Linked DNA regions of Homo sapiens: region 1 is linked to region 2. A link means that fine-mapping ties the variant in region 2 to the expression of a gene that starts in the linked region. Tissue or cell type: whole blood. Region 2 holds a variant in brackets; the other region holds the start of a gene. All regions are shown on one strand. Distances are between the middles of the regions. Region 1 holds the start of LINC02757 (long intergenic non-protein coding RNA 2757). Region 2 holds the start of LRRC32-AS1 (LRRC32 antisense RNA 1).

Region 1 (9,296 bases), 23 kb after region 2:
CTCCTCCAGGCAGCTTTCCCAGAACCCTCCTTCTGTGGATGGCACAGTGTATAGGTCCATTATGGAACCCTTTGCAGGATGGGAAGGTCTGACCCCAGCATCTGCTCCACTGCACCATGAATGCTTACAAAGCACAGACCACGTCTGCTCAGCATTCCTACCTGCCCTGCGCCCTCCACCAGGTTTGACCTTGTCCGTGTGCAGTTTCCCCTTGTTGGTTGCAGGTTATCTGTCCTTAGCCTTAGGAATGAGCCAGGGGGCAAAAGGTAAGAGATTCTGACTCCTCATCCTCAGCAGGCTCTGGTGCTCCCTGCTCTGCCCGTCTGCTGATTCAACGTGGGTGCAAGTGAGTCTCTACCGAACATCACAGATGTGGAGAAGCAGGCCAGGCCCGGGGCTCTGTGAAGTCACAGGGCCAGAGCTTCCTACAAACAATCCCCTCCAAGCATGGCCAAGAAAAACCCCAAACTTGGAGCTCAAAGCTGAAATTCCAGGAGCTCCACTTCCAGGAATTAATCCTGAGAGACAAATATCCAGAAGGTGGACAAAGAAGAACATGGCAGAATTTATTTATAATAGCAAAAATCTGGAAACAATCTAGAAGTCTAGCAGTAACAGCAAGGGTAAATACATTCATGTATATTCAGATAGTGAAAAATTGTACAGCCATTAAAATTATGTTTGCAAACAATTGTTATTAATGTGGAGAAGTGTTAAGTGAAAAAGGACAGAATACAAACGCATGTATGTAGTGTGATCGTAACGGAAAAAATGCATAAAATCTGGGAGGAAATATCCAAAAATGCTAGAAAATGATTGAGTTAGGGTAGAAAGATTAAAATGTTTCATATGTTTATACTTTCCTGTGCTTTCCAAACTTTCTATTTAATAGTATGAACTTCTATTTATTTTTATAATCAGGAAAAATGAATTAGACATAGAGAAAAAGAAGAGATTAATTCTATTCCCAACTCCGGTGATAACTGGACACAACCTTGGGCAAGTCAGCGACCCTCTTCCAAAGTTCATTTCCTCCTTGTCTGTTCATCTGTTCCTCCTTTCCTTCATTCGAGAAGGGACTCACCTGTGCCAGGCCCTGTGCTGGGCACTAGGGACCCAAACATGAACCAGAATGTAAACATATGGAAAAATGTCTAACCTTCTTCATAATCAGAGAAATGCCAATTAAAGCTAAGCCAAGATATCATTTCTAGTCTATTAGATTGGCAAAAACTCAAAAGTTTGAGAACGTGCTCTGTGGGCGAGACTGTGGGAAAAGAGGCCCCTCTCGTACATTGTCTGGTGGGAAAACAAAATGGTGCAAGCCCTACCTGGAGGGGAACTTTTGCCGCAAAATTACATTTGAATTTACCCTTTACCCTGGCAATCCCCTCTTGGCAAAAATAAGAGAAGACAGATTCATAAAGCTATTCATGGCAGCATCATTTGTAATTGTAAAAAAACTAGAAACCACTCAAATGTCCATCAGTAGGGGCAGCTTGACCACACAATAGACAACTCTGTAGCTAGAAAAAGGAAGGAGGCCAGGCGCAGTGGCTCATGCCTGTAATCCCAGCACTTTAGGAGGCCGAGGTGAGTGGATCACAAGATCATGGGTTGGAGACCAGCCTGGCCAATATGGTAAAACCCCGTCTCTAATAAAAATACAAAAAAAATTAGCCAGGCGTGGTGGCGCATGCCTGTAATCCCAGCTACTTGGGAGGCTGAGGCAGGAGAATTGCTTGAACCCAGGAGGCGGAGGTTGCAGTGAGTGGAGATCACGCCCCTGCACTCCAGGCTGGCAACAGAGCAAGACTCCGTCAAAGAAAAAAAAAAAAAAAAGGGGGGGGCGGATGAAGAAGATCTCTGCATGCGTGTCATGACAGTGTGACCTCCGGGCTGGGTACAACGTTAACTGAAAAGCAGAGTGGACTAAAATGCATATAGTACGTTATCGTTTTATCCAACAAAAAGGAGGGAATACACAAATACATGCGTGTTTTTAAAATTAAGTATCAGTTAAAAGATAAAAAATAAAATTAAACAATTGTTGTCTGCTGGAGTGGGGAGGAAGTGTGGTAAGGGAATGGAGTAGAAGCCAGGCTTCTCTGAATATACCTTATTATATAGGTTAGCTTTAGAAGTACATAAATTCTTTCCATAAAAATAAAACAAAATTAAATCTAAATAAAAGTCAAAAGCAATCACCCCAAATAAAGAGCAAAATGAAATCAATAAATCTGTGTATTGAATTGTTTTCTTCACCAAGCAAAGCTGAATTATTTTAAGTGATTTAGAAACCTGGTAACTTGACTATAGCTTGACTAGTAGGCTATATATTCTAAGGATAAAAGAATCACAGACAAATTATAAAGTATTTTCAGTAATCATATTATTAATACCACTATTGGTGTTATTATTCTGATATTTTTATAATATGTATATATAGAAAGAAAGTAGGAGAAATGAATCAGTAATAATGTCAATGTTGTTAGGAAGCAAGATGTTCAGCATTAGACAAAAGAGATTCAGATACAAAATCAAAATACTTATGTAAAAGCCCTATAGCTGAAGGTTTTATTCAAACTATCAATATGAACCCTTGATATATATCTTCTTAAGAAAAAAATTTCCTAGCTCTGCACCTTGAGAAGATCTAAAAGCAAAGACCAACTCAGCATATCTCACACCTCACACCCAGATTTGTGGTTTCTAAATGCCACTTCTTGTAAAAAAGAACCAGGGCTTCTTGAAGAAATATCTAATTCCAGGTCCAGGCGGAAAAAACACAAGACAAACCTGGACATCTCGTTATACCAGAAAGTCAGGACAGTATTAAACACCACTAGGGTCAGGCCAAAAGGACTCAGATGACCAAGAGATCTCTATGGGCCAAAGGTGGGACAATTTGAGTGACAACAAGGTTAATAACTGCAATAAATTGAAAATTTTCAAATGCATTTAAAAATATTAGATAATAATTTAAAAAAAAAAACAAAACCAACAAAAAAAAACTTTGCTGATCACCTCTAGAGACTGTGAGGGAATCAGCTCATTATTCTGAAAACTGATAAGTAAAGGGGAAATCAGCCAGCATTAGTTCTGTCCTTCCTAAACCAATTGTACCTTAGGGGAACCAAAGCATCAGGAGAGAAGTTTTTCTCCATAGAAGTGTTCCAGCTAATAAATGAAGAAAGAATGATAAAATTAAAACATCATTGTTTTGTAATTCTCTAATGAAATAATAGATATAGGCAATGATCATCACAGCCTTCTAAAGGCACAAAAGGAGAGACAACCAAACATTATAAATATGATGTTCCTTCTGAGGGAAGTAGACACGCCACCTATGAAGCATTCTTCCTAGCACATTGAGTCTAATCAAGTGTTTAGATCTAACTACCAATTTACGGGAAAGGCAGGAAACTGAGGAATGTGTTAAATAACACTATGGGGGAATGCAGCCAGAAGGTGGAAAACTACATGGGATCAACAACTTTGTTTAGTCAACAAATATATATATATATATTTTTTTAAAACAGGAAATCCCAGCATTTTGGGAGGCTGAGGTGGGAAGATCATTTGAGCCCAGGAGTTTGAGACCAGCCTGGGCAACATGGCAAAACCCCATCTTCCATGAAAAAAAAAAAAATACAAAAATTAGCCAGTGTGGTGGCACATGCCTGTAGTCACAGCTATTAATACTTGGGAGCCTGAGGTGGCTGAATCACTTGAGCCTGGAAGGTGGAGGTTGCAGTGAGCCGAGATCACACCACTGCACTCCAGCATGGGGAACAGAGTGAGACAGTGTCTCAAGACAAAATAAAAATAAAAAATAAGGAGAGACCAGACTCAGTTGCTCACACCTGTAATCCCAGCACTTTGGGAGGCTGAGGTGGGAGGATCACTTGAGCTTAGGAGTTTGAGACCGGCCTGGGCAACATGGCGAAACCCTGTCTCTACAAAAACTACAAAAAATTAGCCAGGCATGGTAGCGCATGCCTGTGGTCCCAGCTACTCAGGAGGCTGAGGTGGGAGGATCACTTGAGCCCAGGAGGTTGAGGCTACAGTGAGCCAAGATCATGCCACTGCATACCAACGTGGGTGACAGAGTGAGTTAGACCCTGATTCAAAATAAAAAAAAAAACCACCCCCTCCCCCCCCAAAAAAGAGAGAGGAAGTAGAAAAGATTGAAAGAGATTTAAGAGAAAACGATCAAATGCAATGTATGGAACTTGTGTAGATCCTGATTTTGAACAAATCAACTTTAAAAGATCTGTAAAAGATCTTTGTTAGACAATGGGGAATTTTTTTATTTGGAAGACAGCTGGCCTTGAACTCCAGGGCTCAAGTGATCCTCCTGCCTCAGCCTGCCAAAGTTCTGGGAGTAATTATACTTAGAAGCATGATTTGGAGTAATCTGGAGTAATCACGCTTACAAGTGTGAGCCACCACGCCTGGTTTATTGGGGAAATTTAAACACCACTATATACTATGATAATAAAAAATTATTATTAAAAATGTAGGCAGGATAATAGTTTCTGGCCATGCCTTTATCTTTTAGAAATACAGACTGCAATATTTATTTTGAGACAGGGCCTTGCTATGTTGCTCAGGCTGGTGGTGAACTCCTGGCCTCAAGTCATCTGCCCACCTCAGCCTTCCAAGTTGCTGGGATTTATAAGCATGAGCCACTGCGCCCAACTCCTTGTAGTATTTGTGGATAAAATTATCTGATGTTTAAATTTGCTCTGAGTAATCCAGTGGGGAGGAGTTGGGGGATAGAAATGAAACAAGAGTGGCCCTGAGTCGGGGAGGGTCGAAGCTGGGTGAGGAATACACAGTAGTTTTTGTACTATTTTTGTTGTGTGTTTGAAATTTTCCACAATAAAATGTCTTTGCTGCTGTCAAGGAGGTGGGGAGGAAGACCTAGACGTTCCCTCCAAGGCTGGGGTGGGGGAAGGGAGATCGGGCCGTGTGAGCTTTCCTCAGGAGTGAGCAAAAACAGGAACGTGCCTGCAGAGGGAGGAGTTCCCAAAGAGGAAACGGCGCAGGAACAGCAAATGCAGAGAGGATGCACACTCTGAAGAGGGCAGGCAGCTTCTGCACCGAGGGAGCAAAGGGGCGTGTCAGGGGCAGCTGCTGGAAGGAGGCGCAAGCACCACGGAGAGTCTGGGATGCCCAGCCAAGGAGCCCTGGAAGGGTTGCCCTGGGGACTGACACTGTGGGCTCTGTGTTTTAGCCAAGTCACCCAGGCAGCTGAACAGAAGATGGACTGGAGGGAGAAGCCTGGATGTAGGTAGGGAGGCCTGAGCAGTGGCCAGGTATTTCCTGGACTGGGGTCCTGGAGAAGACAAGGTGGCCTGAGCCAGGGAGTGGCCTGTGATGGACTGCAGGAGACAGCTATGAGTGCTGCTGCCAGGAGGAGGGTGCTGGGAGGGAGGAGTGCAGTGAGACCCGTTTGTGGCCTAGGCAACTTGGTGGATGTTGGTGCCACTATTAAGATAGGTTGAGAGGGCAAGTCAGGCCCCTTCATCTAGAGCCCTGGGCTGGGAGACAGGGGCCTGGGATCTGGCCCCAGCCCTGCTGTCTGGCTGTGGAACCCAGGGCATGTCTCTACCCCTCTCTGACCTAGGGGTCCCCATCTCTAAAGCAAGGGCTAGGAGCCTCAGATCAGAGGTTCTCCGAATCTGCCCCGGGTCAGATCTGTGCCCAGCCCACACGTGCACCCTTCTTGCCTGCGAAGGGCTCACGAGTTCTCATCTTGCGTCACTGAAAATCCAGTGGTGTGATGTCAATGGCATTTCCCTTCAGAAAAAGGAAATGAGCTTAGCAAGCGTGTTACCAGGAAAGGAAAGTTAGTTGGGCCCCACCCTCTGCAGCCCCATGCTCCCCGCACACAGCAAGCAAGGCCCCTCTGCCTGGGGCTGGGGACAGGACCCAGAAATGTCACAGTTCAGATACAGGCACCAACACAACAGCCTTGACTTCCAAGCAGGGCTGGGCTGCCCTCAGCAGAGTCAGCAGCTTCTCTGGCTCCCATGGCCTGGACCCTGGCCACACTCGGAGACTGAGGTCACAGGTAGCTCCAGGGTCTCATCAAACATCAGCAAGGCCCAAAAGCTGAGCTCTTTATAGCCAGGAGACTGCGACCCAGACAGGAGAAGGGGCCTGGCACAGGACACAGAGCCAGTCAGAGGACAACCCAGGCACAGGCCACATGGCTCTGGGGAGTCAGGTGGTCCCTGAAGGCCTGTCTTGCTACAGAGCTCCCAGAATGCCCCATTCCTGGTAGATGTTCCCAGAAAGTCCCTCTCCAATTCCAAATGTTAAGTGCCTTTACTAAATGAAACCACTCCCTGACACTTAGCTTTTGACCATCTAAACATTCCTTAAAATGAACTATGAAGATGAAATGAAAACCAGTGTCAATCTATCCAATACAATTGCTATATACTTTGGAAAAAATGAATAGTAAATTGGTAAGTTTGGTATATTTGGCAAATTGGTCATTTGAAAACCTGATCAGTTGGCAAGCTGGTCATCAAGCAGATCCATTTTTAGGAATTTGACCTAGAGCCTCCCACAGACCCCACCAACCAGGCCTCCTCCCACCTTCCAGCTGCATGGGCCGGGCCAGATCCACCGCATCTCCCCAGCCCAACCCTCAGCCCAGGGCCTGACACACAGGTGGGTCCAGGCTCTTGCTCATTAACTGCTGAGTAAACTAAGGAGATGTGGAGCCTGTGTTGAACCTGAGCACCCTGGGTAATTGGAGGGGCCCACAGGAGGTGGATTAGCAGGGGTGGCCCTGGTCAGCCCCAACACAGTGAGGTAACCGGGTGGAAAAACCCCTCACCTTTGCTCTTGTTGTAAAAGTCAACTCGGGTCATAATTTCCACTGTGCCCCCAACAGGGAGGGCATCTGGTTCACCCTCCCACGCACCCAGGGTTTGGGGGTTTTCAGGTGAAGTGGAACTAGGTGTTTGTGTTTCTGCACCTTTGCAGGATCGCTCAGCAACAAAGGAGCCAGAAAAGGCAAGGTGTACACACCGTGTGCAGCATGGGCGAGCTGCAGGCATGCAGGTAAGAGTGTGTGCATGCAGGTGTGTGCACACGAGTTTGCATGTGCTGATGCAGATGGCTATGATGCGTGGTGGTGATATATACATGTGGATGCTTATGGATCTGTGCCAACCATTATTAAGCACATATGTATACCCGTGTGTGTATATGCATGCATGTGTTTGTGTGAGTTGCAATGTGTATACAACTTTACACAATAAGTGAATTGAGTACATGTACCTGTTTATCCACGGAAGTGTATGATGACTGGACATATGTAAATATGTGTATTTGCATGTGTTTATACTTTGTGCATAGATGCATGTTTGTGTATTTATGCTGATCCATTTAAGCGTATGGGATGTGTGTGGATGTTTGTGTAACATCTGTACATACTCCATAGGTGCATCTTAATACAGGAATATGGGTGCGATGTGTATGTGTGTGTGTGTGCCTGTGTGAACAGGTGCGGCTGGAGGTCTATGAGTGTGTGGATAGGTATATTTGCCTGTGCGCATGTGCGATTCACGTGGTGTGAGTGCACATGGTCGCAGGCAAATGTCTGTGTGGGCACACACATGCCCTGTTGCCCTTTTCTGTCTTTTCCTGTTGGGAAATTACAGAACTTCTGAGTCCTAACCATGGCTGGTGGCTCTTCCAGGAACATGGTTTCCTGGACCCAAAAGGTAAGCTTGTCAGGGACCCACGTGAATGAGGAAGTGGGTGGGCCTGAGTCTGGGGCTCCTCTGAGAACTGCTGTGGACCAGGGAAATCTTGCTGCCACCTCTGGTCTTTAGTCCACCTCTCAGTAGTAGCTTTCAAAGCTTGATTTTTTTGGAGGCGTCTCCACGGAGCATAGTCCTAAGCTCCTAGCCTACATTGTCCCTGTTCCTGGGCCTGTTTGGTTGACATTCTCTTACAGTTTAAAAAAGACATCCACATCCGTACTCTTAGCTAATCCTTGTGACCTTTCTTCTAGTCTGTTTGGAGAGGCTGGGAGCAGAGTGGTTAAAAGAGCCAGGCCTGGTTCCATTTCTGACCCCTCTTCTAGCTGAGCAACTTCCGCCTCTTCCAGCCTCCCTCACGGGAATCACAGATCACGTGAGATGACACCCATGAAGGGCTTGACTGGCATCTGGCACATGGTGAGGACTGCAAAAATGTGGGCTATTGTTTTTACTATTATCCCCATTTTATAGATGAGGAAACTGAGGCTTGGAGAGGCTCTCTGCCTTTGTCAACCTGGAGATGCTGGGAAGGAAGTGAGGCCCATCCCACCTCAGATGCCTGTCCTCTGTCGTCAGGAGCATTCTCTTGTTCTTCCGGGCTTGGCCAAGCGGTGGTAAACCCCACATGTGGTTCTGTGGTTGCCCACACAGTCCTAAAAATAGCCAACAGGAACCCAGGGGCTCCCCCTTGGTGAGTGGCAGCAGGCCCAGTCCTCAGGCAGCCACCAACCTGCTCACTCCCCACAGGCAAGCAGGTCCTGTCTAGGAAGGGGCTGGGTGGCCTGGGTCCCATGCATGATGAGCCAGAGGCTGTGCCAAGCTTATAGCAAATATTATTTTATTTCATTATGTTTTCTTACATCTGTGATGTGGAGGCCATAGCTCCACTGGACTCATGAGGAGACTGAGGCTCAGAGCAATGAAGTGACCTGCTCAAAGTTAAGGAGCTTCAGTTTGGACCCAATTTGTTCTGATCCTAAGGTCACTATCCTTAATCCCTCTCCCTGTGGGGTCTTCCCTATCTTGAGCCTGTGGACAGCTGTGCAGTGGCAAGAAAAAGGCCTTCAGAGCTACGCAGACCTGGCTTCAAATCCCAGCCTCCCTGATGAGCCCTGGTGGTCTTGGTAAGTCACCTCACCTCTCTCAGCCTCAGTTTCCTCACTGAAAAAATAGGAGCCACACTGCACATGATGTGGGAGTATGGTGGGGATCTAATGAAAGAAGGCACACAAGCACCCGGGGGGGGCCTGGGATGCAGCCAGTGCTCAGTACACAGCCACTCACTGGCTCTGCTCCTCCCCCCATTGACATCTATGCTTCCAAAGCTGGGGTGAGAGGAGCAGCATTGGTCGAGCTCCCAGAAGTGTCCTGCCAGGTCAGGGAAGTGGAACCACCCAGGAGAGGCCAGAAGAGGAGGTCCCTATGGTAGACTGAAATTTCCCAAAAATGATCTCAGGAGTGTTCCTAATTCTATACCCTGGAAACTTGTCATTCCCCATCAGG
Region 2 (9,186 bases):
GTGATGTCCTCTCTCAGCTATCACATCACAAGATAATGCTGGCTCCAAACTTCCTTTCTGTGCCTCATCATGCAAGGATCTTTTTTCCCTCTTACAAAAACAGGTAAAAAGCCTCACCCAGATGACCCCCATCCCTCATACCATGGAGTCATGAGCTGTCTGGGAAGAATGGACGTGCTGGGACCAACTCAAGACCTTGTTTTGCTGTCTTCATCATCTTACCTGTGCTTGGCCCACAGTCTGGCTCATGATGTGGGCTCAGTAATGTGCGAGAAAGTGAAAATGCCACTCTCTCCACCCCATTTTACAGAGGAGAACACCAAGGCCCAGAGGAAGTTAAGGGAGAGTCAATGGGCAGAGCCAGGGCTAGGCCCTGGTGGTGTGTGGAGCACCCAGGCAGACCCAGTCCTGGTTGGGATCACACCCACGGGTGCTACTGCACGTAACACTCCTCCTTAGGCCTGGAGGCCAAGGTGTGGGTCCCCACGCCTGATCTTTGAAAACACTACACAGGGCTGCTGTCACTTCCCAGGGCCCAGGCCTCAGCCCAGGCCTCGGGACCAACTCTTTGTATAACCTACCTGAATGTATTAAAAACTAATTTTGGAGAAGCAGTGTGGCTGCCAGCTTCCTCTTTGCAATCCGCTTCATTGCGTCCACTAGAACCCTGCCGCTCAATCCCATTACGGTCGTTCAATCATCATGGCAAATCCCTGGGGACACTGAGACTCTGGGCCAGCACCACCCTGGACCTTGAAGCCGCAGCCACTAGCATGGCCCCTGCTACACCTCTTGCCCCACACTCAACAGGCGACTGTGCTCCCCACCCCAGGGCTGAGAGGCTGAGGGCTTCCGTTTGTTTCCTTCCTGCTACAGCTACAGGCCCCCTCCCCTTCTCTGTGCTCAGCCCTCTGTGCCCTATCTCAGAGGCTGCACTGCCCCTCCTCCTTGGGGTCCCCAGCCCCGTCCTCTCTCCCTTACCCCGTCATGCTCTCTTCTGCCTCCAGCCTCTCCCTGTTTACGTCTTCCTCTCAGACTTCAGCTGGACTCAAGTCTTGTCCGTCTTAAAAATAGTGAGAAGCCCCTCAGCCACTTTCCCCTTCGTCCTCCCACTCTTCACAGGCCAGGTTCTTGGTAAAGTCACTTCCCTTCCCGCCCCTCCCGTTCTCAACCCGCCTGGAGCTGCCTTCAGCCCCTCCCAGCTCCATGCTGCCCTTGCTAACAGCGTCAAGGGTATCCTTTGCCAAACTCAGCACGCTTTTCAGACCTCCTCTCCCTAGGCCCTGTGCAGCAGGCCCCCCACCCATACCCCTGCTGGGCATGCTCTCCCCACAGCTGTGATCCCACACAGGAAGCCATCTCCTCCCTCCCAGGCCACTCCTTTTCAGGCCACTCTTTGCTCATCTTCCTTGAGCCAGCTTTAAGTGGTGATGGCCAGGGCTCCATCCTAAGCCCTTTTCCCTTGGGAACACTATGGCCTCATTGCTGTAAACACCCCATTGCTCTGATGGCCCACATCTCTGTCTCCAGCCCCACCTCTCCTGAAAGTCCAATTCTGCTACCCAGAGGCCTTCCCAGGTAGAGGGCTAAAGGTCCCCAGGGACTGGAGAATTCAGTGATCAGCCAGGCTGCAGATCAAGGTTGAACTTGGAAGAAAACCACACCTGGTTCCTGGCTTGGAGTTGGAGGGTGAGTGTCGGGTGTGGGACAGAAGCAGCCTCACCTGGGTAGGGGAGCACTGAGAGGCGTGACAGGCCAGGGCAGAGCATGCAGAGCAGGGGGTGCTTATTCCTCTGGCCCTCACACCTTCCATTTCGCCCTGTCAGCAGCCTGGCACTGCGCCTTTGCCCTTCCCTTCCCTGACTGCCTCTCCCCCAAGCTCCTGCTCAGTGATGCTTCTCCTGCCCACCCCGAGTCAGCCTGGACCCCTCCCCTTGGCCCTGCAGCCCCTGGGCCCAGCGTTGGCAGCTCTGCCTCCTGGAGATTCTTCCGTTTCTCTGGTCCGTGCCCTCTCACCTCCCCATTCCTGCTCCTGGCTCCCAGTCTGCAAAGGGAAATTCTAAACACCTATTTCATGGGGTAGGGCTGGGGGAGAAAGGAGAGAGCCCCACCCCCTGGCACACGATAGGTGCTCCGTGAAGGCCTAAGGGGAAAGCAGGAGCTTGGGCTGAGCTCGCCTAGGGTCTGCGGGCCTCTGCTCCAGCAGGGAGCCCAGCAGGCCCCTGACCCCTTTTCCTGACAAACAGGGAGTTTGCTCACCTGGCCAAGACCCCCGGTGAGGCAGAAATTCCTGTTTTCAGCCAAACGTGGACACAGCAGCCAACTAGGTCATCAGAACATCCAGCTTCCCGAGCTCTTAGCTTGCAGGGAGAGGGGAGGCCCTGCCACTCCCAGGTCACAGTCAGCCTGAGGTGCAGGGCCCAACTCCTGGGGTTCCATGCGCTGGCGTGGCACTCCACCAGGAACGGGTCCCGGGACGCGCCAGCAACTCACCCTCTCAGACCCACAGGCTGGCCACATCCTCCAGGATCTGGGACCCACCGTCTGTGTTCTGTGCCCCTGTCCTTCAGGCAGTTCACTGAGCCCATGAGGCCCATCTCTCTCCCGCCACCTCTCACAACATGCTCAGAGATGGCCATTGTTGAGCACTTCCGGGCGGGCCCATGCTGAGCACTGGATGTGGATTGTCATGTTTAATTCTGACAGCCGTTGAAGAGATTTCTACTGTTACCATCCTCATTTTAGAGAACTGAGCTCCAGCGATGAGACTTGAACCCAGGCTGTCCCACTCTGGAGCCAGCAGTCTTAACCATTAGGCAGCACTGCCTCCTGCACCTCTCCCGCCTCCTCTGCCGGAACCAGCTCACCCCCCCACCCACCTGCACAATCTCCTTCACCACCCTCGCCTGTATCACCTCCATCACCTTCTCTGGGGAGACTGTCTGGATTTCTCTCCTCCAGCTGCCCACAGGTCTGGGCTGCCCTCAGCATTGGGTGTCTGCCTGACCCACCCACCAGGCCAGGAGGTCCTGGGGGGAGGTCCTACCTGGAGTCCTATCTGTCCCCAGGGCCTGTGAGCCAACACAGACTAAAGCCAGCTCAGAAAAGGTTTTCTGAGTGAATGGCCCCTGTCTTCCAGGACTCAGAAGCTTGTGGAGTTGAGACAAGCCCTCAGAGAGTGTGGTGAGGAGGCTTTTTGAACAGACCTAGGGGACACAGAGAGGACAGGGGAATGCAGACTGTGGGCTGCCCACGGCAGCAGGGGCCAGTGGGGAGGCAAAGAATCCTCTCTGACCACCCTCCATTCCCTGCAGCTTCCTCAGGCCTCTAGGACCCCGTCTTATCTTTGTCCTCCCCCCCTCCTTTGCTCCCCCTCGTCTCCCATTCTTCTCTTCTTGGTCATCTCCCCC[C/G]ACCCCCACCCCTATCGCACTGGAAACAGTTGGGCTGTGGTGGCTGAGAATGGGGAGGGCGGGGTGGGGGAGAGGGAGGCCCGAGCTGTTTATAGGAACTGGAGCAGCTCCATCCATCAGCTCTGTTTGGAACTGGAGACCAAGCATAATAAATACCTTGGCTCCTCCCCAGCTGCGCTTTCCGTGAACTTGGCCGTCCGAACTCCAGCTCTCCCTGGCCTCCTGGTTCCCAGGATCCAGTCTCACTCCACCCCACCCTACCTCACCTCCCACCAAGCTGCCCTGGAAAGAGTCTGGCCTCTGGGACCAGAAACACGGGCCTGAGTCTAGGTTCTGCTGCTTCCTCACTGTGGGACCAAGGCCAAGACCGTCACTTAGCTGCACCTCTATTTCTGCATCTGTAAAATGGGGTCATAATCATCGCCCACACCCCCAAACTCAGCACTGCTCATTCGTTCGGCCAGAGTGGCTTGGGCATCTGCTCTGTGCTGGGCCCTAGGCCCTGCGGGATACAGGGAACAGTTGGACAGAGCCTCTGTCTATGGGGTGGAGAGAGGGGCCACACCACAACCCAAGCCAGGAAGTGGTCAGCGCCTTGAGGGAGGTCCAGATTTTGTGCTCGGGAAGTTTGTTTGCAGCAGGGAGCAGCCCTTCCAGCTGGAGAAGTGAGGCAAGACTTCGAGGACATCTGGGCTGGCTCTGCAAGGAAGGGTAGGATTTCAACACGTGGAGATGGGAAGAGGCTTTCCAGGCAGAACAAATGGCAGGACCCAAGGCCTGGCAGCAGGAAGAGCCAGGGCATGTCTGGGAGTAGAGGGGTCTGCCTGGCCCAGCCTCCATCGCATCACTTTCTCCTCTCTCCTCATTCAGCACCTTCTGCTCAGGACTTCCAGCCTTCTGAAATCTTCCCTCCTTCCCTGGAGAGCTTCCAACTCACCCAGCTAGGCCCTCCCAAGTTGTGGATGCATTCCCAGAATTCTGCCATCATGTCCCCACTCCCTCCTTCTCTGAAAAAGCCACCCTAGAAAGCGGAAGATTCAGATCGGGAAAAGGCATGGACCAATAGCATGTTTCTGGAGTGAATAAGGGAAAAAATGAATAAAGAAATGCAGAAAAGATTGAGTCAATGAAGGAGAGAGTGAGTGAGCAAATGACTGAAAGCAGCCAGCATTGCCGGGACCCTGCCGCATCTCATACTGGGTGCTGCACAGGCAGCGTTCCTCCTCTTGTGGCGCTTGGGAAATAGACATTAATCACACACAAACAAAAACGATGGCAAATTGTAATGAGGGCTATGAAAGGGAGTGAAGGGCAAGATCACTGAGGGGTGGGACTCAGAAGAATCCTTTCTGAGGACATGACCTGTCAGCTAAGACGGAAGGAGGACTTCAGTTGAGAGAACAAGTCAATTAATACTCCGTGGCCTCTTCCACTCACTCTCATGAATTTGCCAAGTCGCCTGGGGAGAATGGGGCCTGAACTCTGGACCCTGAGGTCCTTTCTCATGCACTGAAAGCAGCCCCCCAGCCCTGGCCCCTCCCTGCGACTTGGTGACTTGACTGCCCTATTCTAGCATCATGGAAAACACATGGAAGGCCACGTATAGGGTGGTGGGAGGGATGCCCAAGGGAGTCACGCATTTTGGGGGGAGGGGGCTAGCTAGGCTGCAGGATGAGGGAGTCCAATTCCAAAGGCCCGTGCTTTTTTATTTTATTTTATTTTTTTGGTGGAGGATGAGCCAATAATGTCTCCCTCCTCACTTTCCACACTGCTCATGTCAGCTTGTACTACCCTCCCCTTTGACCCCAGATAACCCACTGTATCCAACCTCCTGTATGTTTTCTCCTTAATTGAGTAATCACTGACAGACACATTTACATTGTATGCAAACACACATATGCAAGTATTAGAGATTTTAATTGTTATTTTACAAAAATGGGATCATATTCTATTATACTCTCTTGCATTTCGCTTTTTTATGCAATAGTACTTCAAGGAAATCCCCCGAAATAAACTGATATAAGTTTCACATAATTTTTGACATTACATAATATTCCATAGCGTGAATATTGCACGATTTATTCAGCCATTCACCTATTGATGAACAATAGCTTTATCTTTTCTTTAACTATAAACATGAGGCAAAAAATTCTATTCCTATGCCTATACTCTCTAGGGTTTGTGTTCTCATGGAATGAATGCCTAGAAGTAAATCAATGGAGATATATATATTTTATACACTTTTAATGTATATTATATATACTTTTAATAAAGTTTGCATTTCAAAAAAACAGTAATGTTTCACATTTCCGCAAACAACGTATGAAAGTATCTTATCCTGTGCCTCCCTACCAGAAATGCAGGTTTTAGCTGTGGGTATAAAACGATCTCTCATTGTTACTTTAAATTGCATTTTCCTGCTGCTGGAGCTGAGCACGTCTTCATTTGTATTTTTGGCCATTTGGATGAACTCTTCTGTGAATTACCCATTTTTATCCTTTGCCCATTTTTCTACTGAGTTAACTATTTCTTATTAATTTGTAAATCCTTATTGTATGTTGTAGATCTTAAACTTTGTCTCACATTTCCATAATTCGTTTGTCTATTGACCCTGCTTATGTATCTTTTGGCCTACAATGTTTTCCAAGGTCTCACTTTTCCTTAATCGCTTCTCAATTTTATTAAGTTTCACTCAGGTTGCTCATATAGTCTCCTAAATTTTCTTGTAAAATTTGTTATGTTGGCTAGGTGCGATGGCTCACATGTCTAATCCCAGCACTTTGGAAAGCCGAGGTGGGTGGATCACCTGAGGTCAGGAGTTCAGGACCAGCCTGGACAGCATGGTGAAACTCCGTCTCTACTAAAAATACAAAAAAAGTTAGACAAACCTGGTGGTGCATGCCTGTAATCCCAGCTACTCAGGAGTCTGAGGCAGGAGAATCGCTTAAACCCAGGAGGCAGAGGTTGCAGTGAGCCGCGATGGTGCCACTGCACTCCAGCCTGGGTGACAAGAGCAAAACTCCATCTCAAAAAAAAAAAAAAAAAAAAAAACCAAAATTGTTATCTTGTTTTTTATTTTACATTTAAATCTTTACATAACCTGAGATGTTGTTGATTTTTTTTTTTTTTTAAATAGAGAGAGGGTTTCCCTATGTTGCCCAGGATGGTCTTGAACTCCTGGGCTCAAGAGATCCTCCTGCCTCAACCTCCCAAAGTGCTAGAATTACAGGTGTTAGCCACCACGCCCAGCCAACCTGAGATGTGTTTTTTATTTTGAAGTTGAATAATCATCCAATTTTACTTGCTTCAAAATGAATAGTAATTTTGAAAGCATTGCTTATTAAGTAATTAAAAGGTTACTCTGTCAGATATTAAATTCTGATATATATTTGAGATCTATTTCTGGATTTCTTTTTTTTTTCACTAATCTATTTCTCTGTTTCTATACCATTACTCTAATGATTGGTTTTAGAGTTGGTTCTGATACCTGCAAGACAAGTCATCTTGTACTGTTACTATTTTTCATGTCTTTTTGGCTATTCTCAGGAATTTATTGCTTCATATAAACATCAAGATCATTGCACTCTGTTTGGAATTGATTTTGGAAGGTTTGACATTTCTATATTAAGTCTTCCCATCCAAGAGTATGATGTATCTTTCCATTTGTTCAGATCTTGTGTTCTCTTTTTTTGTTGTTGTTGTTGTTGTTGTTGTTTTTGAGACGGAGTCTTGCTGTCACCCAGGCTGGAGTGCAGCGTTGCAATCTTGGCTCAATGCAACCTCTGCCTCCTGGGTTCAAACGATTCTTCTGCCTCAGCCTCCTGAGTAGCTGGGACTACAGGTATGTGCCACCACACCCGGCTAATTTTTGTATTTTTATTAGAGATGGGGCTTTGCCATGTTGGCCAGGCTGGTCTCAAACTCCTGACCTCAGGTGATCCACCCACCTCAGCCTCCCAAAGTGCTGGGATTACAGGCATGAGCCACCACGCCCAGCCTCAGATCTTGTGTTCTATGTTGCTACAAGATTGTATACCTTTCTTCATAGAGACCCTATATCTTTCTTGTTACATTTATTTCTGAATATCGTTTTTGTCAATATCATAATGGGAATATTTTTTCTATTTCCGTTTCTATGCATTTATTGTCAAAAATAAGAAAAGCAACTGGTTTTTGTACATTTATCTTATATCTAATAACATCATTTTTTCTTAATAATTCAAATATGTTTTTCTTTTGCAGTTATTTTATCTTATTTGCTAGAGGCTCTGAGGTTTTCTAGATATACAATAATTTAATTGCCTCATTGCTCCCACAATTCCCTTGACACTCTCACTACAGTAGCATCTACCTCCAGCCATGTCTTTCCTCACCCGGCCTGCACCCAGGTTACAGGGAATCCCACTGCCCACAATAGAATTTCTTCTCTCATTTCCTCTCTTCTCAAAGCTAAGACTCCAGTTCCCTGTTTCCCTGGTTTACAGGAGCAGAGTAGGGTATGGGTGGGGGTGCTCAGGTTCTCTGCTGCTTTGTTCCACAGAATGAATTTGTCCCACCCTCACTGGAATTCAGCTTTCCTAGAGCAAAGGTTGAAAACTGGTGGCCTTTGGGCCAGATTTAGCCTTCAGACATGCTTTATTTGGCCCACACAGTGGTTTATAAAAATTTTGATTAGTTGCCAACATTTAAAAATTGTAAGAGTTGTTTTACACGGGAACATATAAAAATCTGGATTTCTAATTTTTCTTAAAATCCTGAAAGATCTGAGAAACTGGGCCCTCAGCCCACAGGACAATGAGTGGCAGGAGCTGTGAAATCACATGTCCTACCTAGACTATGAGCTCCTCAAAAGCAGGAGGTCATCCTGCCCCTTCTGTACCCCCAGCATGTACCCCTAGAGCCTGGCTCCAGGCAGGGGTTCATGAAAGCTTAATTCCTTTCCTTCAGTAAGTTTTAAAGATATGTGAGTTGACCCATACAATAAGGGTTCTGAACTTTATTATGCCTTGGCAGTCTGGTGAAGCCTAAGGACTTCTTTTCAGGATAAGGTTTTCAAATTCATAAAATAAAAAATACACATGATTACAAAGGAAACCAATTCTATTGACTGCTTATCAAAATATTAAAAAATAAATTGTGAATTAGTAATACATGTTCTTTATGAGCACATTACATAACAAGATCTAGTGGCAAGTCTAATAACTACTGTAATTTTGAAGCACCGATGAGCATAAATGATATTCTGAGAGATCTGTAAGAAGGCAGGAAAACGTGTGATTTCTGTTGGTTACAGGACTGCTAAAGTCATTTGTACTCTGAATACTATGGGGATTCGTGGCTACATTCAAGATGGAAAGAATGATTACATTTCAATGAGAAGCTAATGATGAAAATAAAGACGTAATTTTTTCTCAACCAAGTTCACAGACCCCAAGAATTCTACCCACAGATCCCGTGGATCTCAGATCAAAACCTCTACTTTCGGGAAAAGGTGGGAATGTCAGCTACAACCAAGTCACAATAACAAGGAAACACAATCCCTTAGAAACTGCCCCAGTTGTGGTTGTTCTCATTCAAGGCAGAGTGGGAGTGTAAATGAAATCACCTATTCTGGAGGGCCCTTTGGCAATACGTTCCAAGAATCTTAAAAATGTGCATCTGCTTTAATCTAGCAATTCTGTTTCTAGGAGTTTATCCTAAGGAAATAAAGACGTAGCCAAAAAATAGAAAAAAAAATTGAGCGTGAAGACGTTTGTCATAGCCAAGGACACATCCA

The links. PIP is the estimated chance that this variant, and not a neighbour inherited with it, causes the effect.
Region 1: it holds the start of LINC02757, and the variant in region 2 is fine-mapped to the expression of LINC02757 in whole blood (INTERVAL, PIP above 0.99).

What each region holds. Positions count from the first base shown.
Region 1 is chr11:76,626,194-76,635,489 of GRCh38, reverse strand. LINC02757 (long intergenic non-protein coding RNA 2757) reads left to right here and starts at 5,068. Exons shown (of 5, transcript NR_187244.1): 1 at 5,068-5,299; 2 at 7,009-7,086; 3 at 8,265-8,917. RefSeq lists enhancers at 4,891-5,185, 5,644-6,003.
Region 2 is chr11:76,648,952-76,658,137 of GRCh38, reverse strand. LRRC32 (leucine rich repeat containing 32) reads left to right here. Exons shown (of 3, transcript NM_001128922.2): 3 at 1-614. It overlaps LRRC32-AS1 (LRRC32 antisense RNA 1), which reads right to left and starts at 1,142. Exons shown (of 3, transcript NR_199061.1): 1 at 982-1,142. RefSeq lists an enhancer at 3,846-4,369. The variant C/G (reference allele first, on the strand shown) is at 3,411.